Linked DNA regions of Homo sapiens. The protein of the gene in region 3 interacts with the protein of the main gene of each other region in a biochemical or structural test. Each region holds a gene or a part of one and is shown on either strand. Other genes may lie near its edges.

Region 1 (11,119 bases), on a different chromosome or scaffold from region 3:
ATGGAGGTAACATTTATTTTTTTTTTCTTAATTTTTTTTTTTTTTTTTGAGATAGAGTCTTGCTCTGTCACCTGGGTTGGAGCGCAGAGGCGCAATCATGGCTCACTGAAGCCTCAATGTCTGGACCCACAGGATCCTCCTACCTCAGCCTCTGAACAGCTGGGACTACAGGTGCAGCCCCATCATGCCCAGCTGATTTTTGTATTTTTGGTAGAGGTGGGATTTCGCCATGTTGCCCAGTCAGGTCTCAAACTCCTGGGCTCAAGCGATTGGCTTGCCTCAGCCTCCCAAAGTGCTGGGATTACAGGCATGAGCCACCATGTCTGGCCCTTAGAAACATTAGGAGACCTACTATAGACACTGGTGTAAATTTGGGATATGAAGGGGCTGTCATGTAGAATGAGAAATAATGACAGTTAGAAATATTAGCTTGGCTGGGCACAGTGGCGCATACCTGTAATTTCAGCACTTTGGGAGGCCAAGGCAGGTGAATCACTTGGGACCAGGAGTTTGAGACCAGTCTTGGCAACATAGTGAGACCCTGTCTCTACAGAAAATACAAAAATTAGCTGGGCGTGGTGGCATGCACCTGTAGTCCCAGATACTGGGGCAGAGGACAGGACTGAGGTGGAAAGATCGCTTAAGCCAGGAGGTCGAGGCTTCAGTGAGCCATGATCGTGCCACTGCACTCCAGCCTGGATGACAGATTGAGACTCTGTCTCAGAAACAAAAACAAAAACTAAAAAACCCATAAAAAATAAAACAACCTAATGTTTCTAAGACTTTACTCCTCTATCAAGTCACGTCTCCAGAGAGCCTCATTTTAAGGGGCACTCTTACACCTGATAGAAATACCTTCCCATAACTAGTATTTAGAGTGCAAGCTCCAGGCATAGACAGCCTCAGCATTCACTAAGCACCAGTGTGAGAAGTGGTCATGAGGAAAATACTCAACCTGCTTTCAAAAGCAGCATTTAAAAGTTCTTTTTACAAAATTTAGATGATCAATTTCCCTTGGCATAAAATGCATGGAAAACTGATAGCTATTAATAGCCTGGTGTGCTTTCAATTAAATTATTACAGATGTGTAAGCCATGGTGTCCTTCTCTTGTTTTGGCTACCAGAAAGCTCAGGATGCTATTTCTTCCAGGGCTAGCTTTTACAATGTGCCCAGCAAGCTTTGTGACTTAAACTGTTTCAGCCTCAGTTTCTTCATCTTATAAAGTGAAAGTAACCAACAACTACTTTGCAGAGGGGGGTTTAAGGAGCCAAATACGGTGTCTGGCAAATTTGTTCAACAAATATTTATTGACTTCTATGTATAAGACACTGCCCTCAGTGCTAGGGGTCTAATGACAGGTCCTTGCCCTCCCAGAGCTCACATTCTAGAGGGAAAGCCAGGACTAATAAGTACACAAATACACAGCTGATGGCAAGCAGACCACAGTGAGCACCAGGGAGGAAAGAAAGCAGGGACATGATGGAGGGTAACCAGCTGTAAGAGGCAACCTGTGTTAGACGGTACAGGTGGAGAAGACTGCTGTGTGCAGGAGAAATTTGCAGTGAGACTTCAAGGAAGAGAATAAGCTCGCCACATAAAGAGGAAACAAAGAGCAACCCAGGCAGAAGGAACAGAACAGCCAGGCCCCGAGGAGGGAAACCATTTGGCAGGTTCTAGGAGGCTGGTGAGGCTCCAGCACAGTGTGCAGAGAGAATGCTGGGAGATGAGGTAAACAAACAGTAGTGTGGCTAATAAGAATTGCTTTGCTCTAATGATTGCTTGCTTGTCTTAGTGGTTTTGTTATACCTGGGCCTTTTGTTTTAAGCAGTTTCAAATACTTTTGAAGTGACCAATATACAAATGAGATGAATATAAAGTAATTAATGAAAAAATGTTAAAGCTGACATTTATCAAGATCCTACTATATGATTTACATGACTTGAACATTTAATTCTTCCAATATTCTATATGGTAAATACTATTATTACTTTTTTTTAACTGATAAAGAAATGAGACGCAGAGAGTTTAATAAACTTACCAAAGCTGGCACAGGGAATAAGTTTAAGAGCAGGATTTGAATCAGGCAGCCTGACTCCAAAGCCAATGTCCTTAGACGCTACACAATGCTGCCTCTTCAGGTTACATAGCTATTGTGAATCAGTTACTTGATGGTACCCACAGGTCCTCCTGAGCTTCTAACAGTTATTGTACTCACTAGTAGCAAGAAATATGTTTGGAATTCATAATCTATAATCTACTATCAGGGATTCACATAGCTTCAAATTCTATCTATTAATAAGGAATAAGGTCTAATGTAGCATGAGAAAATTTCCCTCCCAAGAAAAATAAAGAACTCTAATTAACATTTTAATAATCATTCTCAACTTACAGAACTTATCCATTGTTAAATCCGTATCCATAAATTTATTACACAGATGTTTATGTAGGTCAGCTTGCAAATAGCTACTGGTTTGCTGTCCTGGGGATACCAACAATATGTGTGAAGGAGACACAGTGGAGATTGATTTCGTTATTTAAATAGTTCTGGTCAAAGAAAGTGAGCAGGTAGTCTGAGGGCTGGTAAAAATCTTTTTTAATTACTGATTTTTCCACATGGAGTTCTGTTTCAATCTGTAATCTCTGATGTACCCAAAGCCTCCCCAAGGCCACAGTAGTCATGCTCCCGGGCAGTATCTGCCATCCCAGCCACTTACATTCCCATCGTGGTTTGGGCAAGAGAGAGGCTTTCCCGCAGCCACAGCAGTGACTGTCTCCAGGATGGAAGACTCCTCAGCGTTGCTGCCTGGAGTTCGCTGCAGCACGTCCATCAGGTTTGTGATGAAGAAATTGTTCTGGAGCGCGGCCACCCCTTTCTCGGGCAGGATGGAGGTCTGGCGGCACACTGGGCAGGAGAGGGTTAAACTGTGGGCAGGAATGTAGTTCTGCAGGCACCTGTTGCAGAAGCAGAGGTGGAGAGCTTAGCACAGTGCAGAACCTCCACTTCTCACAGGTACCATACATGTTCTCAGTGACTACACAAGGTATTTGGCAGAAACTCCCATCCCAGTCTCCTTTACTAGGAAAATAATATTTCAGAAACCAACAGGTAAGCTGTACTCACACTAATGAGGCAAATGATTATGCTCAAGGAAATAAAAAATGTCATTGACTTTTGTAGTGTTTTCTAGTGCCTTGGCACACAAAGTGTGGTCCATGGATGAGCAGCGTCAGCCTCCCTGGGGGGTGCATTTGGTAGAAATGCAGAATCTTAGACCCTATCGAACACCTGCTGAGTCAGCTCCCCATGTGATTTGCATACATGTTAAAGTTTGAGAAGCACTGGCCCACAATATCTAGCAGTGGGCTCATAAATGTGTGGACTTTGAAATTGAAAGAAACACATCAAATATTTTTGTTAGCAATAAAATTCTTCTTACGTACAAAATCATAATGAGATATAAAAAACACATCAAAGTGGAAATATTTGCTTGAAGCAAGAATGGGACACCCAGAGTCAGAGCCACACCATCTCTTCTCCTTGTCTCTACTCAACAGGTATCAACTTAACTCATTTAGTTAAAGAAGTGTGTCACTAATAATGACTCACACATATGCTGCTCATTGAATTCAAAGTACTTCCAATGAGCCTATGAGATAGGTACTGTTATGATTCCTTGAGACACGTGATGCAACAGACAGAGACAGGCCAGCGTACTTGTCCAAGATACTTAGCTGGTCAGGAGCAGAGTACAAAGTACAAATTCAAACACAGGCAGTTTGGCACCATAATCTAAGCTCTCAATAATTAGACTATACAATTTTTTCCAGTACCTAGCCAAACAATTCAAAACACACCAACCTAGCCCCATTCCCCTTATTTTGCAGATGAATAGACCTGACATCAGAGACATTCACTGATCTTGTCTATGTCACAGAGGTAGCTAGCCCTGAACCAATACCAGACATGAAACAGCTTTTGCTAAGGTCATTAACGACGTCTGAATCCAGCAGATGTTTTTCAATTTTATCTTACTAGACTTCTGGGAAGTATCATTAAGCTTGATTATTGCTCTGCTCACCTTCCTTTTTATTGAAAAATTTCTCTTCCCTTGACTTTATGACACCACACTCACATGGTTCTCCTGTCTGCTCTGTCTTTTCTGAGTCAATACAGTTTTGAGTTAATCAAGGTTCCATTCATCATGAGACCTCTTCTCTTTCTGGAATATTATATTCATATCACAGGTGTGGCTACAAGCATCAGGCTCCCAAAATTATATTTCTTCCCACAGACATCTCCTTTGAGCCTCATTAACTGACCTGTTGACATCTTTTCTTAGATGTCTTGCAGGTCCTAAAACTCAACATGAACAAAACCAAACCCATTATCTGAACCCCAGACTGTATCCTCTCCCATTCCTGATGAATAGCACCTCCATCCATTTATTTAAACAAACCAGAAACTAGGAGTCATTCTTAAAACAGTAACTCCCTTACTGTCCTTCATTTTCCATATCCAACCCATCACCAAAGCATGTCCAAATGCCTACATATCTTTCTAACCTCTCCAGTTCTCTTCATGCCCTGCTATATAACCATCCTTGTACCCTCTAACAATTATCCACATTGCAACCAGAGTGACCTTCTCAAAACTCAAAGAGAGCCATTTAAATCTCCCTCCCACACCATCTGAGATGAAAGCCATGCCATGGTTTCCACTTCCACTGCTCTTACAACAAAGACAAAAATCCATATATGGCAACATGGATTACACATCTCATATGGCCTAGCACCTACATACTTTCTGTCTCTTCCCCTCATTTGCTGCATACCAGCCACAGTGGACTTATTTAAGTTCTTCCTCAGTGTTGAATAACCCTCTCACTGTAGCACCTCTCACTCACTATAGCAACCTCCCACTATAGCACCTTTGCACATACCTGAAATTCTATTCACTCCCCTTTGTTTAGTTAATTTTTACTCATCATTGGGGTTTCTGCGTAATCATCACTTCTGCAAGGAAGCCTTCCCAGATTAGGGCAAATTCCTCTATTATATTGTTTCCTGTATACTTCTGGTGTACAGCACTTGTCACTGGTTTAATTTCACATTAGTCTGAGCAATTAGGGGGTTAGTGACTGGCTCCTCCACTAGGCTGTGAGTTCCAAGGGGCCAGCAGCTATGTCTGGCTTTGCTCTCCTTCAAGCCTTTTGATGCTGTTTTGGAAGATGTGGGATAAGAGTGACTGTAAGGGCTGGGCGTGGTGGCTCACGCCTGTAATGCCAGCACTCTGGGAGGCCAAGGCGGGTGGATCACGAGGGCAGGAGATCGAGACCATCCTGGCTAACACGGTGAAACCCCGTTTCTACTAAAAATACAAAAAAAAAAAAAAAAAAAAAAAATTAGCCGGGCGTGGTGGCGGGCGCCTGTAGTCCCAGCTACTCGGGAGGCTGAGGCAGGAGAATGGCGTGAACCCGGGAGGTGGAGCTTGCAGTGAGCCGAGATCGCGCCACGGCACTCCAGCCCGGGCGGCAGAGCGAGACTCTGTCTCAAAAAAAAAAAAAAAAAAAAAAAGAGTGACTGTAAGGTGCTCACTGAGTAGCCAGTATGAATGTCCAGCAGAGGCTGAACATGGGGGTCCTAGAGCTCACTCTCCTGACAGTGAGACAAGCTGTAAAGTTTTGTCTCTGCATAAACAAAAATTTCCCCACCGGGCGCAGTGACTCATGCCTGTAATCCCTGCTCTTTGGGAGGCCGACATGGGCAGATCACGAGGTCAAGAGATCGAGACCATCCTGGCCAACATGGCGAAACCCCGTCTCTACTAAAAATACAAAAATTAGCTGGGCATAGTGGCGCATGCCTGTAGTCCCAGCTACTCGGGAGGCTGAGGCAGGAGAATCACTTAACCCAGGAGGCGGAAGTTGCGGTGAGCCGAGATAGCGCCACTGCACTCCAGCCTGGTGACAGAGCAAGACTCCGTCTCAAAAACAAACAAACAAACAAACAAACAAAAAACCCCATTTTAAGGAAAGTTGCCAGCACCTTCAACACCTTCAAACAGAAATCTTCTCGGCTGGACGCAGTGGCTCACGCCTGTAAGCCCAACACTTTGGGAGGCCAAGGTAGTTGGATTGCTTGCGCTCAGGAGTTTGAGACCAGCCTGGGCAACATGGAGAAACCCTGTCTCTATAGTCAGGCATGGTGGTGTGCACCTGTGGTCCCAACTACTCAAGAAGTTGAGGTGGGAAGATCTCTGGAGCCTGGGAAATTGAGGCTGCAGTGAACTGTGATTGTGCCACTGCACTCTAGACTGGGTGACAGAGTGAGATCCTGTCTCAAAATAAATAAATTAATAAATAATTAATAAAATAAAAAATAAAAGAAGAGGAAATCTGGCCAGGCGCAGTGGCTCACGCCTGTAATCCCAGCACTTTGGGAGGCCGAGCTGGGCAGATCATGAGGTCAGGAGATCAAGACCATTCTGGCTAACACAGTGAAACCTCGTCTCTACTAAAAATACAAAAAATTAGCTGGGCGTGGTGGCAGGCACCTGTAGTCCTAGCTACTCAGGAGGCTGAGGCAGGAGAATGGCGTGAATCCGGGAGGCAGAGCTTGCAGTGAGCTGAGTTTGCGCCACTGCACTCCAGCCTGGGCAACAGAGTGCGACTCCATCTCAAAATTAAAAATAAAATAAAAAAAGAAGAGGAAATCATCTCAACATGCATGAGGCTGGAACAATTTTAACACAGAGCATTGTGTAAGGACTTGCTGTAGCAGAATCTCACAAATCTCTACCACCAGCTATTGGGTGGGGAGTGGAAGTGGGTTGGGCTAGATCCCCAAAGAAGATAGCAGGGGCAGACCTAGGGCAGCCAGAGTGTTGCTTCTCACCTGTCAGAGTGAGGAAGTAGGACCCAAACAATAGATAGGCTGGACACTGAATACTGGGATATGGGGCAATTCTGCCAAGTTCAGACTGAGTGGCTCTGAATGCACTTCTATAGAGAGTATCAGCCAAGCTATGCCGACTGCTGCACATCAGGTAACGATCTTCCCATGTGTGCCCAGGGACACATGGACTATTAGCTGGTATTCATGTTTTAGGTGCACCCATTAAGGGGATGGAGGAATCACACTCTAATTATTTTGTAATATGAATTACCAAGCACTTAAGCCAAAGTATAAAATGAATAAAATAAAAAGTGCCCTATATACCACCACTAAAACAAACCAAAACCCATATACACAAGCACACGCACACACACAAAACCCCACAACAACCCAAAACAAACAAAAAAGCCACAACTACTAGTAACAAATCTACCTTCTCCTTCTATCCATCACCACCATGAAGGATATGGTTATTCTTTTGCAATTGAACCTTGCAAAGTAAATCAACTCAAAAAATGGTCAATCAGATAATAAAGACATGTTAAATCAGATATTTGTGTAATCAGCATAGATTTGAAGCCATTTGAAATACTGATTTCCAGTTCTATCACAGGAAGTAAAGCATTTTAAGTATGTATATTAAATAATGATAAAAATGTACTTAACAAAATGCTATAAAACACAATTACCATATTTATTTTTAAGAAAGATACATAACTTTACTAGGGAAATATTTATAAGTAAGATAAACTAATTACTAACAAACTTATGCTTAATTGCTTACATGGTAAGTTAAACAATGGGGTAAAAGTATATTTTGATAACTGATTAACGCCCCTCTCCAAAAACAAATACTCTATGAAGAAGATAAATAAGGAAGTCTGTTTTCACATACAGCAAATTACATAGTCAGGTAATTTATTTAATATATATTTTTTCTTTATCTAAAACATCATAGCATTCAAATGTGACATTAGTATGTGTCTGAAGAATCTTTGAAAAAGAAGCTATACCTTTTGAAGTAACAACTCATGTATGCAGATGTTTTACCTGATTTGTTATATGGGAGGAAATGATAGATTTTTTTAATTGACTCTGAAAGACCCTCTGTAGGGATCTGCTGTGGACAAAAATTGTTTCACAAAGAACAAAGGGAAGTTTTAAAAGATTTTTCAACTTAACATTCTTATTTAATGCTCCATCTCTTGTGTAAACGAATCAGTAGTTACTGGATTGCTTTCTCTTGCTTATAATGGTTTGAAATAAAGTAAATTATTTGCAACTCATGATTCTGTTTTTCAATGTCTGGCAGAAGCACAAGAGATTAGTTTTCTCTCAAAGGTAACTGTAGAATTCTGGGAAAGAATCCTGCAGTAGGTTGTAGGAGGTCAGCCTGCGAAACTCCCTTCTCCAAGCACAAAGGAGGCTTACCTCTCGCAGAAAGTGTGCAGACAGGGGAGAACCTTGGGATTCTTGTACCGTTCCAGGCATATACTGCAAATCAGAAACTGCTTGTCAATCTGGCGCACCACAGGACTTGGGATGTTGGTGCCTTCACTGGCCATCCTAGACCACTGACATGGGGGGCCGGCTGTCTTTGACCCTGCACGCTGCTGCTGTCAGACAGAAAATCAAAACAGAAAAACATATAATGATCTGTAGGTACAAGTCAATCACTGGCTCTTTCACCATAAGCATTGTGCTATAAGTAAAGGTAGAAGTCGGCCAGGTGTGGTGGCTCATGCCTGTAATCCCAGCACTTTGGGAGGCCGAGGTGGGCGGATCATGAGGTCAAGAGATCGAGACCCTCCTGGCTAACACAGTGAAACCCCGTCTCTACTAAAAATACAAAAAATTAGCCGGGTGTGGTGGCACACGCCTGTTGCCTCAGCTACTCAGGAGGCTGAGGCAGGAGAATCACCTGAACCCAGGAGGCAGAGGTTGCAGTGAGCTGAGATCGCGCCACTGCACTCCAGCCTGGGTGAGTGCAGTGAGACTCCATCTCAAAAAAATAAAAAATAAAATAAAAAATAAATAAATAAAGGTAGAAGTCAATGCCAGTGACCTCAAAATGACCAATAAGCCAACCCTTATTGCTGTACAAGTACAGTCAGCTCCCTGTTGTTTATTTTGTAAATCAATAAAATCCTCACATGTTCGCCAGGCAAACAAAACAAATTAAAAGAGGGCATGTTGTACAAAGAGGTATGCTCGCTGGGCTTCAAAGCAGTGGTAACTAAGGGGATAAATACTTTATATAGCTATGTCTGCTTATGCCTTTAGCCATGACTATATTTAAACATATATTTACCTTTCATATTCTTATTGAAATTGAATATGTTTTTCCAACTATCGTAGTTGAAGAGGTTGGACTGTGTCACATCAAAATATGTCACTTTGATATAAGGATTATTTTGAGCTGAAAGCTATATAGAAAGAACAGACAGAAAAGGACCTCTCTGCCCTTCCCCATCTGCCTAAAAGCAGAGCATAAATTTCTCTTTTGTAAAGGAAATTTCCATTTGTAAAGGTGCCTCTCTCTCCAGAGCCAGGAAGAGAAGTCTCTTAAACACTGAAGACTGCAAGGAGATGATCTTGCAAAATGATCTTACTAAACAAACCTTATCTACCATACATTTCCTACAATTTACTGCCCCAGGAGTCCAAACCCCTCTTTCTTTTGTCTAGGCAGTTCTCCGCAATATATTGTCCTTTGTCAAAATGGTATATAAAACCCAAAGAGGAGGTTGTGAAGCCCTTGATAATGTAAAATTAAAAATAGTATCAAAAAAAGTGTATGCCTTTTTCTCCCGTTAATCTGTCTTTTGTCACTTTAATTTATAGACCCTAGGCACATACTCTAGGAGGGCAGAAGAAAAGTTTTTCCTCCCCTACATGCTATTAATATGCATGGGGGTGAAAATTAGAATTTTAATTAAAGATTTTGTATATGGTTCAGAGTGTTTTCTTCAGGACTAAAGGTTTATAGATTTGAAACTAAAATATATTTGCTATGGGGTAGGGACAAAGGCTAGAGGTATTCCCTATAATTTAAAAGAAATATCTGTTGGTATTCATGTCTGGGCATTTGAAAGACCTGGTGAAGTGAATTAATTCAGAGAAGGTTTCAAAATGTTAGGGATCATGCCAGGAAAGGAGAATTAGAAGAGGGCAACACAGAAAGAGAAGACAGCAAAGAGTTTGAGAGCACAAGAGAGGAAAAAGTTACAACACAAAACACAGCTCCTTTTACCACCTTAAAGAATTCCTGGCTTCTACACCGAAGGCATAAACCAAGGCTGAGCTAAAATTTACCTCTTCATTTTCTAAATATTTGGTAAGGTGTCCAGAGCCCTCTAATTCCCTATGGAAATACTCTTTACCAAAAAGAAAATAAAAGACAGAGAGAAAGTGAAACTGCTTTTGCAAAAACTGTAACTGAGAAAATTATGGCAGTGAAAGAGATCAGACCTAACCGACTCCATCTTGTTTCTAACCTTTAAGCTGTCCTTGTTCATTCCCGGGCATAGGTTAAACTAACCTTGGGAAGGAATTGAGCTTATAGTTCGACTCTGAAAAAAATTGATAATGGCCCTTTTCCAAAAAGACCCCTTCTTGCCTAAGGACCAGTCTCCCTTTGTAGGACTAACAAATTAGCTACAAGATTAGAAATTAAGGTTTAGGGGCCATGCAGCCTCTGGCTGCAAGAGTCTGAACCTCCCTAAATTGCTCTTCGCGATAACAAAACTATTGTAAAACCAAAGATCAGTGCTTGAGATGTTTTGCAGAGCCTGCACTCAGTGGATCAGCTGACACCACCCAGACCGGTAATCTGGCTCAACAAGTTCCGTGATCCCACCCAGGAACAGAAGGCAGCAAGAAAACCTCGCTTTGACTCCTCTATGATTCCATCTCCAACCTGACCAGTCAGCACTCCCTACTTCCCCTGCCCCTACCTGCTAAATTATCTTTAAAAACTCCGATCCCGAATGCTCAGAGAGACTGGTTTGAGTAATAATAAAACTCTGGTCTCCTGCACAGCTGGCTCTGAGTGAATTACTCTTTCTCCATTGCAATCCCCTGTCTTGATAAATTGGCTCTATCTAGGCAGCAGGCGAGGTGAACCTGTTGGGTGGTTACGAAAGAAAGAAAGGGAAGAAAGAAAAGAAAGAAATAAAGAAGGAAAAGAAAGAGAGAGAAGGAAGGAAGGAAGGAAAGAAAAGA
Region 2 (11,119 bases), on a different chromosome or scaffold from region 3:
AACACTTATACTGTTGTGGTTCTGTTTTTTATTTATTTTATTTTATTTTATTTTATTTTATTTTATTTTATTTTATTTTATTTTATTTTATTTTATTTTCCGAGATGGAGTCTTGCCCTGTTGCCCAGGCTGAAGTGCAGTGGCATGATCTCTGCTCACTGCAACCTCCACCTCCCAGGTTCAAGCGATTCTCCTGTCTCAGCCTCCTGAGTAGCTGGGATTACAGGAGCGCGCCACCTCCCTCTGCTAATTTTTGTGTTTTTAGTAGAGATGGGGTTTCGCCATGTTGGCCAGACTGGTCTCAAACTCCTGACCTCAGGTGATCTGTCCGCCTCAACCTCCCAAAATGCTGGGATTACGAGCGTGAGCTACCGTTCCTGGCCGGTTCTCTGTCCTTTAAAAATATATTTTAATATTCTGAGCAAAGAGATTAAGAATGTTACAAACACATCAACCGTGCGTATAGTAAGTCTTCCCTTCCTTTTAAAAATAGCACATTGCTTGCCTCTGATGGTACCATATATGATAGTCTGATGCTCAGAATGTTATGCATTTGTAGTAATACTTAGTTCCGACATGGCTGTTTCATACTAATTGTTTGCTAGATTTTAAAGATCTCTAAAGTTTCTTCAGTATTAAATTAATTTTTGTAAAATCAACAGGTTTATAATCCATTCTCATAATACAGGGATGGATAAATCATTCTTACTGTGTATATGTTATTTGTATGAGTGCAGATGTGTTATGTCAACTGCTATCCATCCTGACATTTTTAAACTTCAGAGCTATAGGAGACCTTAGACATTTGCCCTCCTCATTTTATGGGTTAGGAGTCCGATCCTGTAATGCACTGAGATTTCTCAGTTTCAGAGAAAAGTCTATCCTTTGGTCAAGGATATACTTTTTTTTTTTTTTTTTTAAAGGAAAAGCAGTACAATATTGGAATAGATGTTGCAAGTGTTGATGTGCAGTTCTCAAAGATAATATTAAACATTTTGTCATAGAATGCCCACATTTCGGCTCAGTGATATAAAGCTGAGGTTTTTTTTTTTTTCTTTTCCATTTTGCTAAATTACTGCTTGTATTAGCACAACATAATACAAAGTCTTAGTAATTTTATTACAGAATACCAAAGCAGCTGTTCTTTATGCTTTACGGAACATATTCATTCGAAAAGTGTGAAGCTAAAGAGTATTATGGTTGATCATGTTCTATATCACTATGGCAAAAATTTGAGGTAACTTAAATTTGGAAGAAATGAGTTAAAAGGATAGAAAGTTGTCAGAATCAGACAGCTAGTTCCTCTCTTTCTAGACCCACACAGTCTTCTTTGTTTCCAGAGATGTCTGCTGCATGTTTCTTACCACGCATTACCTTTCACTGTTTTGGCATGCTTGTGACCAAGTGTACATGCATTTATTCGTTAAATGTTTACTGAGGACCTGTTATGAGCCAGGCACTATTCTATGCATTTGGGCTAGGCAAGGAACAATATAGAGAAAATCCTTTCTTTCATAGAGCTTACATTATAGTTATTAGCTTAAGACAAAATAAACATGTAAATTATATGGCATAACTAGAAGGTTATAAACGCTGTGGAGAACAGTGAATTGGGAGGGAATAAGAAGTGCCAGGATATGAGGGCATGGGTTGCTTTTTTTTTTTTTTTTTTTGAGACGGAGTCTTGCTCTGTCACCCAGGCTGGAGTGCAGTGGCGCGATCTTGGCTCACTAGGGGTCGCAGTTTTAAATATAGCAGTAAAGGAAGGCCTCACTGAGAAGGAGCAAAGGAGAAGGAGTTAGCCATGCAGATACTCTGGGCAGAGCATTCCAGGCAGAGGGAACATAGCCTATGTGAAGTGTCTAAGATGGGAGCATGCCTAGAGTGTTCAATAAATCACCAGGAGAGCAGTGTAGCTGTAACGGAGTAAAAGAGTTGGAGAAGAGTAAGTATAATATGAGGTCAGAAAGATATGGAGCCAATGGGGAGAGAGCATGTAGGACTTCATTGACTTTTATAGTGAGATAGGGAGCTATGGGAGGGTTTTGAGCTGACGTGAGACATAAATTGTCTTGATATGCAGCCAGCTTTCTGTATTTGTGGGTTTCGCATCTGTGGATTCATCCAATGTCAGATGGAAAATACTTGGAAAAAAATAGATGATTACCTCTGTACTGAACATGTACAGCCTTTTTTTCTTGTCATTATTCCTCAAACAATACAGTATGATGACTACATAACATTTATGTTATAATTATTCTAAGTAATCTAGAGATAATTTAAAGTACAGTTGACTCTTGAACAACATGGGTTTTTGAACTACATGGGTCCACTTACACATGGATTTTTTTCTTCAATAAATATATTGAAAAAAATTTTGGAGATTTGCAGCAATTTGAAAAAACTTGCAGATGAACTGTGTAGTCTAGAAATAGTGAGAAAGTTAAAAAGTTATGTCATTAATGCATAAAATATATGTAGATACTAGTCTTTTACTCACTATCATAAAATATATACAAATCTGTCATGAAATGTTAAAATTTATCAAAACTTACACACACAAACATGTAATGGAGACTGTACATGGCACCATTCACAGTTGAGAGATGTAAAGAAACTTAAAGATACAGTATTAAATCATAACTGCATGAAATTAACCGTAGTGCATACTGTGCTACTGTAATAATTTTGTGGCCACCTTCCGTTGCTGTTGTTGTGAGCTCAAGTGTTGCTGTTGTTGGAGCTCATCTCTCCAGTAAATTGTATATGGTAAAAAGTATCTCTCTGGATTCTCTTGTATTTTTCATTGCATTTAGTGCAGTACCCTAAACTTTGAATAACATGATGGGATCCATATGAGGTGCCACTAAGTGATGCTGGAAGTGCTCCAGGAAGCTGAAAAAAGGCATGACATTATGAAGAAAAAGTCGAATTGCTTCATATGTGCCATAGATTGAGGTTTGTAGCTGTGGTTGCTGGCCATTTCAGAATGATTTATCTTGTAAACAGACAGGTATCAATAAATATGGTACAGTGCTGTAAATGTAATTTCCTTCTGATTTTCTTAATTTTTTTCTCTAGCTTTATTGTAAAAATAAAGTATATAATATAGAATACAGTATATAATATTACAATACATATTGTAAGAATGCAGCATATAATACAGTACGCAATACATATAATACAGTTTATGCATTCATGGCATAATTTTATTTTTTTTGCTCCTTCTAAGCTACACAGTTCATCTTTTTTTAAATTGTTGTGAATTTCCAAAAAATTCTCCAATATATTTATTGAAGAAAGAAATCCGCGTATAAGTGGACCCATGTAGTTCAAACTGTGATGTTCACAGATCTGTACTTTAAATAATCTCCTGAGTACTCATAATACCTAGTATAATGTAATACAAAGGCTGGGTGCGGTGGCTCACGCCTGTAATCCCAGCACTTTCGGAGGCGGTGGCAGGCAGATCACCTGAGGTCAGGAGTTCGAGACCAGCCTGGACAACATGGCGAAACCCTGTCTCTACTAAAAATAGAAAAAATTAGCTGGATGTGGTGGCGGGTGCCTGTAATCCCAGCTCCTTGGGAGGCTGAGACAGGAGAATGGCGTGAACGTGGGAGGCGGAGCTTGCAGTCAGCCGAGATCGCGCCACTGCACTCCAGCCTGGGCAACAGAGCAAGACTCCGTCTCAAAAAAAAAGTAGTACAATATGTGTATTAATCTACTGTTTATGTTGTATTATGTTATGGGAAGGCTTCTGGTCACCAGTAGGCTGTTAGTAGTTTTCCATTAGTAGTTTTTCGGGAGTCAAAAGTTGTATGTGTGTGTGTTTTTTTTTTTTTTTTTTTTTTGAGACAGAGTTTTGCTCTTTTTGCCCAGGCTAGAGTACAGTGGCACCATCTCAGCTCATTGCAACCTCCGCCTCCCAGGTTCAAGCGATTCTCCTGCCTCAGCCTCCCGAGTAGCTGGGATTACAGGCATGCACCACCATGCCTGGCTAATTTTGTATTTTTCGTAGAGATGGGGTTTCATCATATTGGCTTGAACTCCTGACCTCAGGTGATCCATCTGCCTCAGCCTCCCAAAGTGCTGGGATTATAGGCGTGAGCCACCGCGCCCGGCTGTATGTGGATTTTTGATTGTGCAGGAGGTCGGTGCCCCTAACTCTTGTTCAGGGGACTCCTGTATATGGAAGGATGTGCATAGGTTACTTGGAAATACTATGCTGTTTTACATAAGGGACTTGAGCATCTGTGGATTTTGGCACCTGTGGACTTCCTGAAACCAATCCCCCAGGGTTACTGAGTCTATCTCTTTCCTGGTTAAGACAAGTTTTTGTTTGTCTTAAATTCAAATTTCTGGAAGCTACAATCTCACTGGCTCATCTTGGGTCAGTTGCTTATCCTTTTGATCCAGGTAGCTGGGTGGTGGTGGGAAAGGTAATGGAAGAATAAGAATCATGACTGGCTGTGTCCATTCTTGAGCTGGTAAGACAGTGCAAAAGAGATCTGCTATATTGCTCAATTAGAATACTTTTTAGACTGAAGCCCTGTGAGTGATTATTGCTGGGCTATCCTCTTCCAGATGCCTACTTCCCATTTCTTCCAGGCCAGGCTTACTTTAGTGGGTTTTACTTCTGTCCTGTAAGACTATGAAGATCACTTATTTTTAGTATAATACAGTTAGAACAGAAAGAGTTCTTGAAAAGTGAATAGGAAGTAAGAACCCCCCAAGGGAAAACTTAATAATTCAGACTATATTTTAGAATGCTGTTGCAGTAGGCTAGATGAGATATAGGAGTTACATTAAGGTAGAGGGAATGGAAAGAATGGAAAAGAAGAAATAGACCAAGGTAGAATTAATAGAACATAGTAATTGAAGAGGTAATATAAGGAGGAGGAGTTAAAAATGATTGATTTTTATATTATTTCAAATGGGAATGGAAAGAGATAAGTAGTTCAGTTTTAGATATTGTTTTAGTTTGCAGGGGCTGCTGTAACAAAGTACTACAGATTGGGTGCTTAAGAGAAATTTGTTTTCTCAACTCTGGAGGCTAGAAGTTTGAGATGAAGGTGTTGGTAGGCCTGGTTTCTTCTGAGGTCTCTCTCCTTGGCTTGTAGATGATTGTCTTCTGTGTCTTCATGTAGTCTTCTCTCTGTATGTCTTCATGTAGTTGTCCCTCTATGTCCTAATCTCTTCTTTTTTTAAAGACGCTAGTCATATTGGATTAGGGCCTACTCTAAGGACCTCATTTTAACTTAATTACCTCTTTAAAGATCCTGTCTCCAAATATAGTTACATTGTGTATACATGCAGGTTAGGGCTTCAACACGTGAATTACGGGGGGAGGGGCAGTGCAATTCAGCCCATGATAGACATGAATTCTTGAAGGCTTGGAAGACTGAAGCATTCCCTGTACACTTATTTTTTATAACTTAACTTCATTATAATATCTTTTTTTTTTTGAGACGGAGTTTAGCTCTTGTTGCCTAGGCTGCAGTGCAATGGCGCGATCTCGGCTCATGGCAACCTCCGCCTCCTGGATTCAAGGGATTCTCCTGCCTCAGCCTCCCGAGTAGCTGGGATTACAGGCATGCACCACCACACCTGGCTAATTTTGTATTTTTAGTAGAGATGGGGTTTCTCCATGTTGGTCAGGCTGGTCTTGAACTCCTGACCTCAGGTGATCCGCCCACCTCGGCCTCCCAAAGTGCTGGGATTACAGGTGTGAGCCACTGTGCCTGGCTGTAATACACTTTTTACTTTCCTGTCTCTCTCCTTCCCTTCTGTCACCTCTTAATGTATTCTGTAAAGATGGAATCAGGTTAATAAAGTATAATTTACACACAAATTTACCCTGTTTAGGGTGCAGTTCTGTTATAACACTTTTGAAATAGAATATTGGAGATTCCATGTCTTTTTTGATTACTTCCCCATTTACCAAATATTGGGTACATGTCTACTACGTATCTAGGACCTGTGCAACAATGTTTTCTGCATGTTTCATTTCTTCATTCCAAGTCCTTGAAAAGTGCCAAGAGGCATTTCTATTGAATGGAACAGTTTGAAGAGCATTGATGTAGCTAGAGTAGTGGTTTTCAAAGCTTTGTCCCAAGACCCCTTTACATTCTTAAAATTGAGGACCCAAAGGACTTTTGTTTATGTGGGTTTTATATGTAAAGATAGATATTTACCATATTAGAAATGAAGAATGAATACAAATTATTTAGAATATTTAAAAGTAACAATAAACTCAATATATGTTAATAAAAATAACGTTATCTGGATTATTATAAGACAATTGGATTCTCATCTCTCCCTTTGCAGTCACTTTGTTAAGTGTTTTGGTTAGTGTATATAAAAACTCGGCATCACACAGATTTATAGCTTGAAAAGGGATGAATATTTTCAGATGTTTGTATGTTCTTTGATACTATGTCAAAACTTGACAAGTGGTAGTTTCTTAACGTATCTGAAAACATGGCAGTCACCTTAAAAAATTAAATTAACTGTTAAATTAAAATCCATTTGTCTGGTAGTGTAGGATAGAGTCCAGAAATAGATCCACACATACATGGACAGTTGATTTTTGGACAGAAGTGCAAAAGCAATTGCATAAAATATAAAGGATATCGTTTTTCAACAAATGGCACTGGAATAGTTGAATAGCTGTAGGAAAAAAAAAAGAACTTTGAGCTATAGCTTGTACCATATACCAAAATTAACTCAAAGGGCTGTTAGACCTCAATGAAAAACCTAAAACTATGAAACTTCTAGGGGAAAATATAGGAGAAATTCTTCGGAATCTTGGGTTAGACCAAGATCTCTTAGGTATGACTCCAAAAGCATGATCCATAAAAGAAGTGGATAAATCAGATGGCATCAAAATTCAGAATTTCTTTCAAAATTAGAAAGACACTTAACAGAATGAAGACAGGATACAGAAGATGTATCTTATAAGGGGCTTGGAGTATATAAAAAATTCTCAGAACTCAGTAATAAGAAAACAATAACTCAGTTTTTAAAATGGTCCAAAGATTTGTATAGACACTTCACTAAAAAATACATGTACATGGCTATTAAGCATATGCAAATATGCTAAGCATCATTAGTCAAAACCATAATGAGACACCACTTCACACCTGCTAGGATGGCTATAATCAGAAAGAACAGGTAAGTGTTGGTGAGCATTGTAGAAAAATTGGAACCTTCATTTGTTACGCTAGGAATGTAAGATAGTGTGACTGATTTTGGTAATTCCTCAAAAAGATAAGCTGAGTAACCATATGACCCAGAAATTTCATATACCCAAGAGAATTCAAAAAATATATTCACACAAAAACCTGTATATGAGTTAGCAGTATTATTTATAATAGCCAAATAGAAACAACCCAGTGTCCATCAACTGATGAGTAGATAAATGTGATCTATTTGTAAAATAGAATATTACCCAGCAGTTCAAAGGAATTAAGTACTGATGCATGGTACAACTTGGATAAATCTCATAAACATTAGGATAAGTGAAATAAGCCAGTCACAAAAGAACATATTTTCTATGATCCTATTTGTGTGAAATGTCCAGAATAGGCAAATCTATATATAGAGAAATTAGTGGTTGTCTGGAACTGGGGAGAGCAGATGGAGTAGGAAGTATCCACTAATAGTTACAGGGTTTCCTTTTGGGATGATGATAATGTTCTAAAAGATTATGGTGATGGTTGCGTAACTGTAAATATACTTAAAACAATTGAAGTCTTTAAATTGGTGAACTTTATGACATATATCTGAATAAAATTGTTAATTAAAACTACTGTGAGATATCATTACATACCTATTAGTGTGGCTAAAATGGTAATAGAATGACTGACCGTACCAAGTGTTTGTAAGGAGGTAGAGCAGTTGGAATTTTCATATACTGCTGGTGGGAGTGTAAAGTGGTACACCACTTCTTCTGGGGAGCAGAAAGCAACCTTCCGGGTACAGGTGAGCCAAGGTTGATGGGCAGTTATGCAGAGGGAGTTGGGATATCACTGTGTGTACCTGTGCAAGTCCTGGAGTGTGTTGGGTCCTCATCAGCAGGGCTGTATGAAGGTGTTCATTAAAACAAAACTACTGATAGTGTGGCAGGAGCTAGAAAACACCCCTTTCTTCTTAGATATCCCTCCAGCACCCTCTACTGGCAAAGTTTAACTGCCCCTAGCCAAAAGAAAAGAAAAGAAAAGCTTAGCATCCCTATCACTGAACAGGGACTGAAAGGGAGAATTTGGAGTTGAGAAGGGGATACATGGATAACTAGCTCATTACTGCTGAAATTGTTGGAATCATTCATTGCCTGTGCTGCTGAAGCTTGATGTTGCCCACAGCTGTTGGGCAGAATCTCCACCATGACTTGCGTATCTGTTAGCAGGAGTCTGCAGTACCTGCCATTAGCTGCAACTGCTGGTTTTTAGAAACAAGTAGAAAATGGTTTCGCTGTTTCTCTGCTTCTTCTTTATTTTTATTTTTGAGATGGAGTTTCGCTCTTGTCGCCCAGGCTGGAGTGCAATGGTGCGATCTTGGCTGACTGCAACCTCTGCCACCCAGGTTCAAGCGATTCTCCTGCCTCAGCCTCCTGAGTAGCTGGGATTACAAGCACATGCCACCACGCCCGGCTAATTTTGTATTTTTAGTAGAGACGGGGTTTCACCATGTTGGCCAAGCTGGTCTTGAACTCCTGACCTCAGTTGATCTACCCACCTCAGCCTCCCAAAGTGCTGAGATTACAGGTGTGAGCCACTGCACCCAGCCTCCCTGCTTCTTCTGATCTCACAGAAGTGCTTCTCATTGACAGACTCTAACTTAAGCCTAGTTGGCAAGGAGGCCAGAAAGTGCAGTTTTCAGGCTTCCAGGAGCAACAGTACAGGTGAATTTTTAATTTAGTAACGATAGTAATCTGGTGAGCTAAAATAAGTAAACTTTGGGGTACATAGAGAATTGGAATTATTATTATTATTATTATTTTTGAGACAGAGTTTCGCTCTTGTTGCCCAGGCTGGAGTACAATGGCACGATCTTGGCTCACCGCAACCTCCGCCTCCCGGGTTCAAGCGATTCTCCTGCCTCAGCCTCCCGAGTAGCTGGGATTACAGGCATATGCCACCACACCTGGCTAATTTTGTATTTTTAGTAGAGGTGGGGTTTCTCCATGTTGGTCAGGTTGGTCATGAACTGCCGACCTCAGGTGATCCGCCCACCTCAGCCTCCTGGGATTACAGGCGTGAGCCACTGCACCTGGCCGAGAATTGGAATTTTTAAACTGTGTTTGCAAGGCCTAATTCCCAAACCCACATAGTTTGTGTATGGGTATACGCTCACCCTCAAAAAGGAAATATTTTTTGTAAAATTTGAGCAGTTAAACATTTTTTTCTGCCTGTAATTGTAAAAGTAGCAATTAAACACTATCTACTTGGGGACGAGAAAGGAAGAAAAATTACCCATGTTCTCGTCTGACCAATTACAGTGGCTGTCTTTTTTTTGCATTTTCTTCTTTAGGCTATGGTGTTTTTACCTAGTTGGAAGTAAGGGAGTGTGGTCATTTAAAAATGTTATATCTCTTTCCATATTAGCAAATAGTTATATATACATATATATACTTTTTTTTTGTTTTTTGGTCTGTTGCCCAGGCTGGAATGCAGTCACGCAATTTCGGTTCACTGCAACCTCCGCCTCCTGGGTTGAAATGATTCTTGTACCTCAGCCTCCTGAGTAGCTGGGATTATAGGCGTGTGCTGCCATACCTGGCTAGTTTTTGTATTTTTAGTAGAGATGGGTTTCGCCATGTTGGCCAGGCTGGTTTCGAACTTCTGGACTCAAGTGATCCATCTTGCCAAAGTGCTGGGATTACAGGCATGAGCCACTGCGCCCAGCCTTGTATTTGCTATTTTTAAGGGACTGTATACATTCCATATAGTGAATGTGCACCATTTATATAGCCGCTTCCCTATTTTGGGCTATATAGGTTATCTGCAGACATTTTGAGTAATATTTTTAATATATTTTCAAAATTGTCTACTATAATTGTAGCTACTAATTGTAAAAATTTTATTGATAATTACATATTAAACATTCCTTGTTTACTTCAGCCAGATGAACAAGGTCAACATTAACAGTTACATGTGGCATAGTGCCACGGTTATTACTTGAGACTGTCACTATGACAGTTACTGCTGTTACTACTTGAGACCGTCATTATGAGACTGAGTGAAGGGGGACAAATGTAGAAATGAAAAATTAAGACAAAAGAAACTTTTAAAGGAAGAAAAAAGGGGAAGAAAAAGAGGGCTCCCTGCTTCTAGGGAGCAAAGGCAGCAGCCTAGCTTCCACAGCCCTTAGAATTTATTGGGTAGAAAGAGCAGGGGGGAGGTGATAATGACTGGTCAGCTGCTTAATTGATCACACGTTCATATTATTACGAACAGGCTTCAGATGTACCTAATCACAAGAAACTGAGCTTGGGGCGTGACTGCCTTCAGCATTCCTTCTGGGTGGCATAGGCAGTTTGTCAGTTTGCCAACATTCTGCGTTTATGAGAACAGTTTGCTGTTCACTCTTATAGCCTCCAGTGGTATACTGAGTTGATCACGACCCTCAGTCTTTCGGCCTCCAACAGTTACAAATCATGTTGATGGCATATCCCTTGATATGATATGATATGATATAAGATGCCACTTCATGTGATTTTTTTCCTTCCCAAAACCCATAGCCCCAGTCTATTCATGAATCATGCAATTTCCAGTAAACAGACATTCTACAGTGTACCTGACCAGTACTCCTTAAAATTGTCAAGGTCGTCAGAAACAAGGAAAATCTGAGAGACTGCCCGAGCCCAGAGGAGCCCAAGGAGACATGACAACTAAATATATGTAGATCCTAGAACAGAAAAGGGACGTTAGGTAAAGACTAAGGAAATCAGAATAAACCATGGATTTGAGTTAATGACAATGTATCAATATTGGTTAAGTGTAACAAAAGTGTAACAAATCCTAATAAGATGTTAATAGTAGGGGATATTGTGTGCTGGGTATATGGGAACTCTGTACTCTCTTCATATTTTCTGTAAGTCTAAGACTTCTAAAAT
Region 3 (11,119 bases):
CCCACCATAGCGCCTTACTTTTCACAACTGATGAGGTTATCTATTGAAAGGAAGAAGCATGAGGGCTTGAGGGAATAGAGACTGGAATAGCTGTTGTGAAGAGTGCATTACACCAAAAAGAGTTAAGTCTTTATCTACTGATCCTGTTGCTCTGTGTAAGTTAGTGCCAAAATGGGTCTTAGGATATACTGATTACATGGACTAGTTTTTCAAACAGGGCTGCAAAAGCAATTTAATGAGTCACTATCAAAGTTTTTTTGTTAACAAAAATAGAAAACAGAGTTTATCACAAGTAGTTTCAGTTATATAATCTATGTATGTGTTTTATTCACTAATCTATATATACATATGTATGCACTGCGTCATGATGTAAAGTATTTCTAATTATGGGTTTGAAAGCCACAATTACAGAAAACAGCCAAACATGGTGGCGTGCACCTGTAATCCCAGCTACTTGGGAGGCTGAGGTAGGAGAATTGTTGGAACCTGGGAGGTGGAGGGTGCAGTGAGCCAAGATTGTGCCACTGCACTCCAGCGTGGGTGCCAGAGTGAGACTCTGTCTCAACAACAACAAAAAAAGAGTCAATGTAAAAGGACATCAAAGCCACTGCCACAAAGCCCCTGCACTTGATTCTACTGGCAGCCACTTGCCACTTGATTCCTTGACAACATTAAGTCAGCTTTCCCACGTCACTTACTTTTGATTGGTTACATTCACTAAAAAGCTTCATAATAGCTGACTGGAATCCTCATCATGAAAAACTGACTTAGACCCTCTAAATTGTTTTCAATCTCTAAAATGTCAACCAAATTCAACTAAAAGAGTAGCCCTAAAAATTTAAAGCACACAATTTTCACTCTATCTGAAAATGGCCTTGCCCACTCTGAAGCAACCATAGCATTTCTGAGTTTTTCTCCTATCTGTGGACCCCTCTTCTTCTATTTTACCTGTGGAAATTCTACCTGCCCCTCCCCTCTTTTCCTTTTTTTAGTTTTTTTTTTTTTTTTGGAGATGGAGTCTTGCTCTGTCGCCCAGGCTGGAGTGCAGTGGCGTGATCTCGGCTCACTGCAAGCTCTGCCTCCCGGGTTGAAGAGATTCTCCTGCCTCAGCCTCCCAAGTACCTAGGATTACAAGCGCACACCACCACGTCCCGCTAATTTTTGTATCTTTAGTAGAGACGGGGTTTCACTATGTTGGCCAGGCTGGTCTTGAACTCCTGACCTTCTGAGCCACCGCACCTGGCCTACCTGCTTTTTTTTTTTGATGCTTAACTAACTAGTACCCAACTTGTGCGTGCAAACTTCTACCGAGCAGCCAAGTTAGCAAAGAGAAAGCCCAAAACCCATAGAGTAGAATAACACTGTAGACTACACATTAACATGTCACATATCCACTATTTTTCAAATATAGAAAGATGTGACTGTGGCCAGGCAAGGTGGCTCACGCCTGTAATCCCAGCACTTTGGGAGGCTGAGGCGGGCGGATCACTTGAGGTCAGGAGTTCGAAAACAACCTGACCAATATGGTGAAACGCCGTCTCTACTAAAAATGCAAAAATTAGCCAGGCGTGGTGGCAGGTGCCTGTAATCCCATCTACTCAGGAGGCTGAAGCAGGAGAATGGCTTGAGCCTGGGAGGCAGAGGTTGCAATGAGCCAAGATTGTGCCACTGCACTCCAGCCTGGGCCACAAAGCAAGACTCTGTCTCCAAAAATAATAATAATAAATAAATAAATAAAATAAAATTTAAAAAGGCACCAATTAATTCAAAATATCTTTCATTACATATTATCTTCATCACAGATGCTATAGTATAAGTACTATCATGATATTAAAAAGAGGTATGTAGGCCGGGCACGGTGGCTCACACCTGTAATCCCAGCACTTTGGGAGGCTGAGGCGGGTAGATCATGAGGTCAGGAGTTCAAGACCAGCATGGCCGAGATGGTGAAATCCCATCTCTACTAAAAACTACAAAAATTAGCCAGGCATGGTGACAGGTGCCCATAATCCCAGCTACTCAGGAAGCTGAGGTAGGAGAATCACTTGAACCCAGGCGGCGGAGGTTGCAGTGAGCAACAGAGTCAGACTCTGTTTTCAAACAAAAAAAAAAGAGAGAGAGAGATATGTAACCAGCAGTTTCACATTTGAAAGTGTTTAAAAACCCAGGCCTAGTTCAATTTTTTTCCATGAGGCCTCCATTACTGTTTTTGAGTTAAATTATAAAAATCTTACAAGGATCAAATCCTACCATACTGCCATATTTATTTTATGTAAATAATGTGCTGTATGCTGCCGTCTGCAATTTGCTCAACATTGTTCTATTAATCTATAGTCCTGTTGTAGCTGTCTCTTGTCCATTCATTCTATCCGCCACAGTTCACTATTATTCTATGATAGTCAGAATCACATAGTCATGTGATCACTGACTTGGCTGTGCTCCGTGGGCACTGCTTTTCTGCCAGGTCCTGGAGTTGTCACCCCTTTTGCCTCTCAGCCTCCCACGGGCGCAATGGAGGAGAAGGATGAGAAAGCATGGGTGCTGCTGGCCCTTCTGTGGCCTCCAGTCACCTGGCTATGACTTTTGATGCTGTTATTGATGTGTTTCCTTGGCTTCAGCAGCTATTTTTGCTATAATAATCCTGCTGCCCTTCAGACTCAGGATAAACGGAACAGGCAGGTGAACACCATGAAATTCATGCTGCTATATGCCTGGTATTCTTGGCCCAATGTAGTTTTGTGTTTCTTTGGTGGCTTTTTAAAAGACCGAGTATTTGGAATATGATGGGGCACAATTACTTTTAGCTGTTTTATTTGCACTGGACAGGTTGTTTTGTTCTGGGTGGAATATTTAATGTTTTTTGGCTGATGGAATTTGAAAGACTTGTGTTTGGATTGGTGGGGAGTGCTCAGCAGTTGCCCAGGACATATGCTGTCAGCTGGTTTAAAGACAAAGAATTAAACCTGGTGTCTGGACTCCAACAATTTAGCATGGCTAGAATTGGAAGTACGGTAAACATGAACTTCGTGAGTTGGCTGTATTCTAAGATTGAAGCTTCGTGGGGTTCTGCTGGTCACACAACCCCTGGGGTCACACTTAAGATTGGGGGTATAAAATGTATTCTTTCACTAATCTGTGCCTTCCTTGGCTCTTGCTTACTTAGATGCGAGAGCAGAGAGAATCCTTCATAAAGAACAACAACAACAAAAAAAGGGGGGGGAAGTTTTTACATTAACTGATGTAAAGGATTTCTCCTTACCCCTGTGGCTCATATTTATCATCTGTGTCTGCTATTGTGTTGCCATGTTCCCTTTTATTGGACTTGGGAAAGTTTTCTTTACAGACAAATTTGGATTTTCTTTCCAGGCAGCAAGTGCAATGAACAGTGTTGTATATGTCGTTATCAGCTCCCACACCCCAGTATTTGGGCTCCCAGTGGATGACACGGGGAAGAACAGCATCTGGGTTCTGCGTGTGGTTGCAGCCACTCTTGTGTCCCACATGATGCTGGCCTTTATGATGTGGAGCCCTTGGGTTGCTGTGTCTTCTGGGAATCTCCTATTCATCGCTTGCCTGTGCATTTTGGCCAACAGTGGCATCTGTAGTTCCTGAACATCAACTGGGAACTGCATATGGCTTCACGCACTCCATTCAGAATCTTGGGGTGGCCATCATTTCCATCACTGCTGGGATGGATGATACTGGACACTGGGGGATATTTGTTTTTAGAAGTTTTCTTCATTGCCTGTGATTCTATGTGACTTTTATCTGTGGTCTTACTCTATTTTGTGAATCATGCCCAGGGTGAGAACCTAAATTATTCCACAAGACAAAGGGAAGAAATAAAATTTTCCCATACTTAATAAGTTTAAATGACTGTGTCATGAGAATGGGCTTTTGCACATCACTGGTTTGAAAATCTCCATTTTTAAAAATTTAGAGTTTAGTCATGAGAAAAAAAATAATGGAATGGCAAGTTGTATTTATATCCAAATACACCTATTTCAAAGTGTATTTGTGAGAACTATTTTAGCCTGTGTCTTCTGTATTGTGTGTTGCTGAAGAATTCTACAAAAGGCCAACCAACAATGAAAGGTTTAGAAAACTGCTCTGGAACATCCAGGTGAACTTCAGAAAAGAACAGTGAAAACAGAAAAACACAGGAGCTTCTTTTGAGATTGTCTTCATTAAGTATGTGTCTAAGGGATACAGCCTTTTCTTTATCTTACAGCAGAAAAAAAAAAAATTGTGACAGACATTCCCTTTCCTGGTAGGGGCATAATGCTAGAAGACATGTGAAGATATTTGTATGAAGTCTCTTTCTACTCACAACCAGTAGCTTGGGCTCTACTATGTGGTTATGTGGACTGCTGAGCAGTGACCCTTCTGAGTTGATTTTTCTGTTACTGAGTCCCCTAATCTCTTAGGGACACAAATTATAGTACAAACAGTCTGTACAGTTTTTCATATAGTCTAATTAGTAACTACAAAGTGTCCTTCGAATTATAATTGACATTTACAAAAATAAATAATAAAACTGCAAAAGGGGAAAAAATAATTTTTTTTTTGCTATTATAAGCAATAGAACATGGAACATTTGAAACATTTCCTAAGCATAGGGTTTTTACCCTAGAAATGAAACTGCTAAGACCAAATTTAAGTAATTGTTCAAAGTCACTCAACTAAGAAGAGTGGTAGAGTTAGAGAGCTAACCAAAGGCAGTCCCCAAAGTCCATGTTCTTGAACACTACGTGATAAACCGCATGGCATTACCACTGATCATTCCATTTCCAAGCAATGTAGGCACTAGGTTCATTCCCTCCAGAACTTCATTACAGAAGAGATGGCTTCTGCCTCTATGTCTCACACAGGACTGGAAAATAATTTATAACTGGAATAGAATTTTGCAACTGTAAAAGAATGTAATTCAGAGTTTTGGTTAACTGATTCTTCATTTTCTATATCTACCCAAGGCAATACTACAAAACACATAATCTTAAGATTCTCCAGATTTTTCATATCATTGCCAGTGCTTAAAAACAAAATAAATAAATAAGACATACTCCTTGAACAGACCAGCCACTGGTGATGAAAGGAAAAGAGAGATAAAAGTTATACAGTCATCATTCATTAATAATTTATAAAATGTTATAATGATACAGTGATATCCAGGTTTCTTAGACTTTCTGGTTTTGTTTGTTTGTTTAAGACAGGGTCTAGCTCTGTTGCCCAAGCTAGAGTGCAGTAGCGTAATCTTGGCTCACTGCAGCCTCCACCTCCTGGGCTCAGCCTCCTGACTGCAGGCATGCATCACCATGCTTGACTTATTTTTGTATTTTTTTTTGTAGAGACAGGGTTTTGCCATGTAGCCGAAGCTGGTCTCCAACGTCTGAGCTCAAGCGATCCACCCTTGGCCTCCCAAAGTGTAGGGATTATAGACGTGAGCCACTGTATCCACCCTAAACTTCCGTACTACAAACCTATTGCCACTTCTACCTGAAATTTTAATTTCTGTGGATATGAGTGGTTATCCATACTGTTTGATAATCAGTCTGAAAACAGTTGGTATACCACACCAGTTTCAGAATGTACATTTCATAGAAAGGCCTTAGGGACTACTGCACTGGAAAGACTCATTAATAAAAATAAAAATGTAATGCTATATAAATATGAGTATGACTGAATTAAGACTTGTGGCAACTATAGGAGTCTCAAAGTAATCCTTGAACGGTACCGGTTATCAATCACATAGACTGAAAAGAGAGTGGAGCGCCCTCTAGTGACTACATGAGGGCTAATGATGGCACAGAGAGATAATCACAGCAGCTTTTACAGAATTTTGGTACAGTATTTCTATTATCTAATTATAAAGTGGTGAATTAATCACTTAGGTCTGGGTACCATCTGAGCCTATACTAATTTATTTTCAATCCTATAACACCCCTCCCCCCAGCACAAGCCTCTACTTCCCTTCACAGGCAGTTATTTAAACGTAAGGTGTATATATTCACTTCCAATAGTGCTCTTCAAACAATTCCAAGATGGCCTCTACTCTCTCCATTCCACTGAAATAATTACAAGAACCTCACTACTTTCTGCTAAGAAGTTTTTTAAGAACTTTTTTTTTTTTTTTTTTAGATAGAGTTCTGCTCTTGTTGCCCAGGCTGGAGTGGGTGACACGATCCCGGCTCACTGCAACCTCTGCCTCCTGGATTCAAGCGATTCTCCTGCCTCAGCCTCCCGAGTAGCTGGGATTACAGGCATATGCCACCTCACCTGGCTAAATTTTTTGTATTTTTAGTAGAGACAGGGTTTCTCCATGTTGGTCAGGCTGGTCTCCAACTCTCGACCTCAGGTGATCCTGCCCACCTCGGCCTCGTGAGCCACTACGCCCGGCCGACAACAAATATTTTTTAAGCATTCTATGAAGTACATGGTTCTTGGTAGCATTCTAAAAGGCTTACTTCTAACAAACCTTTCTTCATTCCCCTGTACCTTCCTTTGCCTTTCTCAGGTCCTGCCCTAGGAATATGCTCTCTCTTTCCTGAGCAAAGGCTAGTGATCTCAGGAAGGCACAGTCCAGAAGTGACCACCAGTATTCTCAGCAGCATATACACACTCCAGCAGAGCTGCCAGAAATATTGCTGTGATTCACATCTCAATTCAACAGCCAACACTTTTAAAAATGTACACCAAAGACCAGAGACGGTTTTGTTTTCTTTTTTGAGACGGAGTCTCGCTCTGTCACCAGGCTGGAGTGCAGTAGCGTAATTTTGGCTCACTGCAACCTCCACCTCCCGGATTCAAGCGATTCTCCTGCCTCAGCCTCCTGAGCAGCTGGGACTACAGGCGCCCGCCACCATGCCCAGCTAATTTTTGTATTTTTAGTAGAGACAGGGTTTCACCATGTTGGCCAGGCTGGTCTTGAACTCCTGACCACAGGTGATCCACACGCCTCAGCCTCCCAAAGTGCTGGGATTACAGGCGTGAGCCAACGCACCAAGCCAGCAGATGCATCTTACAAAACAATACATACTAGTAAATTTAAGTTAGTCTGCAAACACTCAGAGCAGAAAAGAAGACTGTGGTCTTTGCATCTAGAAATGTACGACATGAAATATTTTTAAACTCTATTTCTCTTCTTCTACTGCTCTTTCACACCACTACATTGTTGTCTATCCTTAAGCCATTGGTTTAACAATTAATAGTCAGTTAATAGATTATCATAGAGCATAACAATAACTTTCAATAAACTAGGAGAAAGTGACCATTAGTTTAGTTTGGGATAAGAACACCTAGATTCTAACCAGTATTCGGTGGGGACTCAAGTAGAGAACCATGAAAAGAGACGATCTTGAAAGTTCTCCTTAGCCTTCTTAAAACACTGATGTGTGTAATACATTCTCAATTAAAATGTCCAAAAATTATATAACTCTTCTGCCTCCTGAGTTCAAGTGATTCTCCTGCCTCAGCCTCCCGGGTAGCTGGGATTACAGGCATGCCACCATGCCCAGCTAATTTTCGTATTCTTAGTAGAGATGGGGTTTCACCATGTTGGCCAAGCTGGTATCAAACTCCTGACCTCTCAGGTGATCCACCCACCTCAGCCTCCTAAAGTGCTGGGATTGCAGGCATGAGCCACCGCGCCCGGCCTGAAACTATTATTTTTAATAGCAATAGGTCTTAGACATTAGAGCTTCAAGCAAAACACAAAAACTCTTCCATGATCAAATTCAGTACAAAGGATATTGAATACAGCCATTTCTCCTGCTCCTTAAAAAATAATTTCATGTCAGTTTGCCAAAATATTTGTGGTTTTGCTTTGTTTTGTTTTGAGATGGAGTCTCACTCTGTCACCCAGGCTGGAGTGCAATGGCGTGGTCTCAGCTCACTGCAATCTCTGCCTCCTGAGTTCAAGTGATTCTCCTGCCTCAGCCTCCTGAGTAGCTGGGACTACAGGTGCATGCCACCACACCCAGCTAATTTTTGTATTTTTAGTAGAGATGGGGTTTCACTACATTGGCCAGGCTGGTCTCGAACTCCTGACCTCATGATCGGCCCGCCTTGGCCTCCCAAAGTGCTGGGATTACAGGTGTGAGCCACCGTGCCCAGCCTGCCAAAATAGTTTTTAATTCAGTGTATTAAAAGAGCTCCATTTTGAAGATGTCAGTTCCATTATACTTACTAAAGTGTATCTGGAGGGCCAATAATAAGGACTTCCCATCGGTAGAGATCATTGTCATCTATTAAACCTGCAGAAAAGCCTTCCACTGGATTTTTGTTGAGTTCTGTGGAAAAAGAAAAGTTTAATCAATACATTTAAGCACATAATTTGCATCCAGTAGATAAATTACAGAACTTGAGCGTACATGTTTTATGTAAGTTTTAAACCATTAAATAGATATACCTTGCCAGGCAAAATGCTACTTGATGGCCAAAACATTTTCATGCCTATACTGTAAGAAAGCCCTGGGTAAAGCAAACTATCCAGAAGATCAACTTCTACTGGTATCCAGCCAGGCTCTTGTCATTCTAAGTGGCCCTACAGTGGTCTTTTAAGGAAGCTTGTTAAAATGCAGATATCCAGGCCCGTCCCCCAGAGATTCTCATTGAGAGGGAGCCCTGGAAATCAAATCATGTTGGCAATTCTTATGCTGCTGTCTTCAGGGTATACTTTCAGAGTGTCTAATCATACCTTTTCATTGGAATGTACTGCGCTTAATAACTTTCATTTATACTAACATTTGTACACCTATTTGACTTGTCCCTGTAGTCTTGGGGACCTGCTTCTACAGTGGGTGCTCCTGTGTGCCCATCCATCTCTGAGCACAAGGAGAGCAGGGGCCCCATATGTCTTGTCTGTATATGTCGACCCTCTGAGAGCCACAGCTTCTGGGACAGAGGAGCAGCTTAAGAGTAACACCTGGAGCATACAGAATGGCTGCAGCATCGTGAGGTTCTCCTCCTCTAAAGAGAGTGCTGTGGCATGGAGAAAGGATGACAGGGTGGGAAACAAGAGAGGCGAGGAACTGGCAAGGTGGGGGCACACAGGCCAAGACAGGGACCTTAAGGAGCAGGTGAGCAGCGGTACAGAGCCCAGAATGTTTCCAGAGACACCAGACTTAATAAAGTACTGGCCTCCTGATGGTGAGCAGATCATGTGAGAAATTTTTAAACAACTTTAATGAGGTATAACTGACATTCAGTGAACTGCACATACTTAAATTATACAATTTGGCCGGGCGTGGTGGCTCACACCTGTAATCCCAGCACTTTGGGAGGCCGAGGCAGGTGGACCACCTGAGGTCGAGAGTTTGAGACCAGACTGACCAACATGGAGAAACGCCGTCTCTATTAAAAATACAAAATTAGCTGGGCGTAGTGGCACATGCCTGTAATCCCAGTTACTCGGGAGGCTGAGGCAGAAAAACTGATTGAACCCAGGAGGCAGAGGTTGTGGTGAGCCAAGATCGCGCCATTGCACTCCAGCCCGGGCAACAAGGGCAAAACTCTGTCTCAAAAAATATATAAATAAATAAATTAGCTGGGCATGGTGGTGTGTGCCTGTAATCCCAGTTACTCAGAAGGCTAAGGCAGGAGAACTGCTTGAACCCGGGAGGCAAATGTTGCATCAAGCCAAGATCACGCCATTGCACTCCAGCCTGGGTAACAGAGCAAGACTCCATCTCAAAAAGAAAAAAAACACACACACACAATTTAATAAGTACTGATATACACCAGAGGAACCAACACAACAACAATCACAATAGTGAATGCATGTATCAATCACCCACACAATTATCACATTTTACCGGCCAGTGGAACTGAGTACTCATTGGCTCAAATTGGAAAGTGTGGACAAAGAACACACAGGAGTAGAGTGGTTTGAAAAGGACTTGCTGGGAGTCTCAACAGGTGTGTAATTCTCGTATACTACCTGCCATCATTCTCAGGCAGCTTTGTCTAATGATGAAAGGCAGTATAATATAACTCAGAGTGCTACAAAGGACTGAACCAATGTTTAGGTAACTGAGGAGATATTAATTTTTGGGGAAATCAAGAGATGGTATTATTTCAACAACTACGATTTAACAACATGCCAGCAAAATAGGAGAAAGCCAATAGTGAAAATTTATATTTAGGCAGGGCGTGGTGGCTCACACCTGTAATCTCAACGCTTTCAGGAAGCCAAGATGGGTGGATCACTTGAGGTCAGGAGTTCAAGACCAGCCTGGCCAACATGGTGAAACCCTGTCTTTAGTAAAAATACAAAAATTGGCCGGGCATGGAGGCGGACATCTGTAATCCCAGCTACTCAGAAGGCTGAGACAGGAGGATCACTTGAACTGGAAGGCAGAGGCTGCAGTGAGCCAAGACCATGCCACTGTATTCCAGCCTGGGTGACAATGCGAGACTCCGTCTCAAAAATAAAAATAAAAAATTTATGTTTAAACATGAAGTGCTTCTTTTCTTGAAATGTGAGGGGAGATTTTTATAAGTCTAACATTTTTGCATAACAGGCAAACTAGACTTTTACAAATAGTTAAAATCAGCTCTGTATTTCAAAACACAAGAAATGTACTTTTACTTTAAAGTGGCTAATCTAAAATACTTTTTAAAGATATTGAAAGTGCAAACACATTAAGAAGGGAACAGCATTTTCACTGTTATTTTGTTTATGCACGCATATGTGTACTGAGCGCCAACTATGTTGCAGACATTCTATTAAAAAACAGAAAGTCCCACTTTCCTGTCAACTGAGGAACAGAGTGCAGCACACACAAATGCACTGTGAGGAGTTATTTTCTACATGACTGATCTCATTTCCAACCTTTTTCTAGAGAAACACCATTACATTACTCGGACCATTTTCTACAACACTGTACACAAGAGTCTTGTGAAAGATTCTATAATATATCCAGAAATCACCTAGTTGTTGCATTTTCCACCAGAAGTCCAGGGTTTATAAACATAGGTGAGTAAGCTCTGAAATTAGTATACATGGTCAAAATTACCCTTGAAAATTTCCTTACACTTTCCATAAAGCATATCATTGCTTCTTACTCTTGTCAAAACCCCCAAGTTCTTGAAATCTTTTGCCCATTCTTTCCATGCATTT

The links.
Region 1: the proteins of UBE2G1 (region 3) and TRIM2 form a complex in vitro, tested with the Homo sapiens proteins (one study listed by BioGRID).
Region 2: the proteins of UBE2G1 (region 3) and MARCHF6 form a complex in vitro, tested with the Homo sapiens proteins (one study listed by BioGRID).

What each region holds. Positions count from the first base shown.
Region 1 is NC_000004.12:153,267,727-153,278,845, reverse strand, and holds part of TRIM2 (tripartite motif-containing protein 2), read right to left. Parts: intron 8,512-11,119; coding exon 8,327-8,511; intron 2,954-8,326; coding exon 2,716-2,953; coding exon of another isoform or gene 2,677-2,715; exon of another isoform or gene 2,578-2,676; intron 1-2,577. UniProt on the Homo sapiens protein: UBE2D1-dependent E3 ubiquitin-protein ligase that mediates the ubiquitination of NEFL and of phosphorylated BCL2L11. Plays a neuroprotective function. May play a role in neuronal rapid ischemic tolerance.
Region 2 is NC_000005.10:10,356,313-10,367,431, forward strand, and holds part of MARCHF6 (E3 ubiquitin-protein ligase MARCHF6), read left to right. Parts: intron 1-11,119. UniProt on the Homo sapiens protein: Endoplasmic reticulum membrane-associated E3 ubiquitin ligase that plays a critical role in mitigating endoplasmic reticulum stress, the regulation of cholesterol and lipid homeostasis, and ferroptosis.
Region 3 is NC_000017.11:4,298,836-4,309,954, forward strand, and holds part of UBE2G1 (ubiquitin-conjugating enzyme E2 G1), read right to left. Parts: intron 8,289-11,119; coding exon 8,186-8,288; intron 1-8,185. UniProt on the Homo sapiens protein: Accepts ubiquitin from the E1 complex and catalyzes its covalent attachment to other proteins. In vitro catalyzes 'Lys-48'-, as well as 'Lys-63'-linked polyubiquitination. May be involved in degradation of muscle-specific proteins.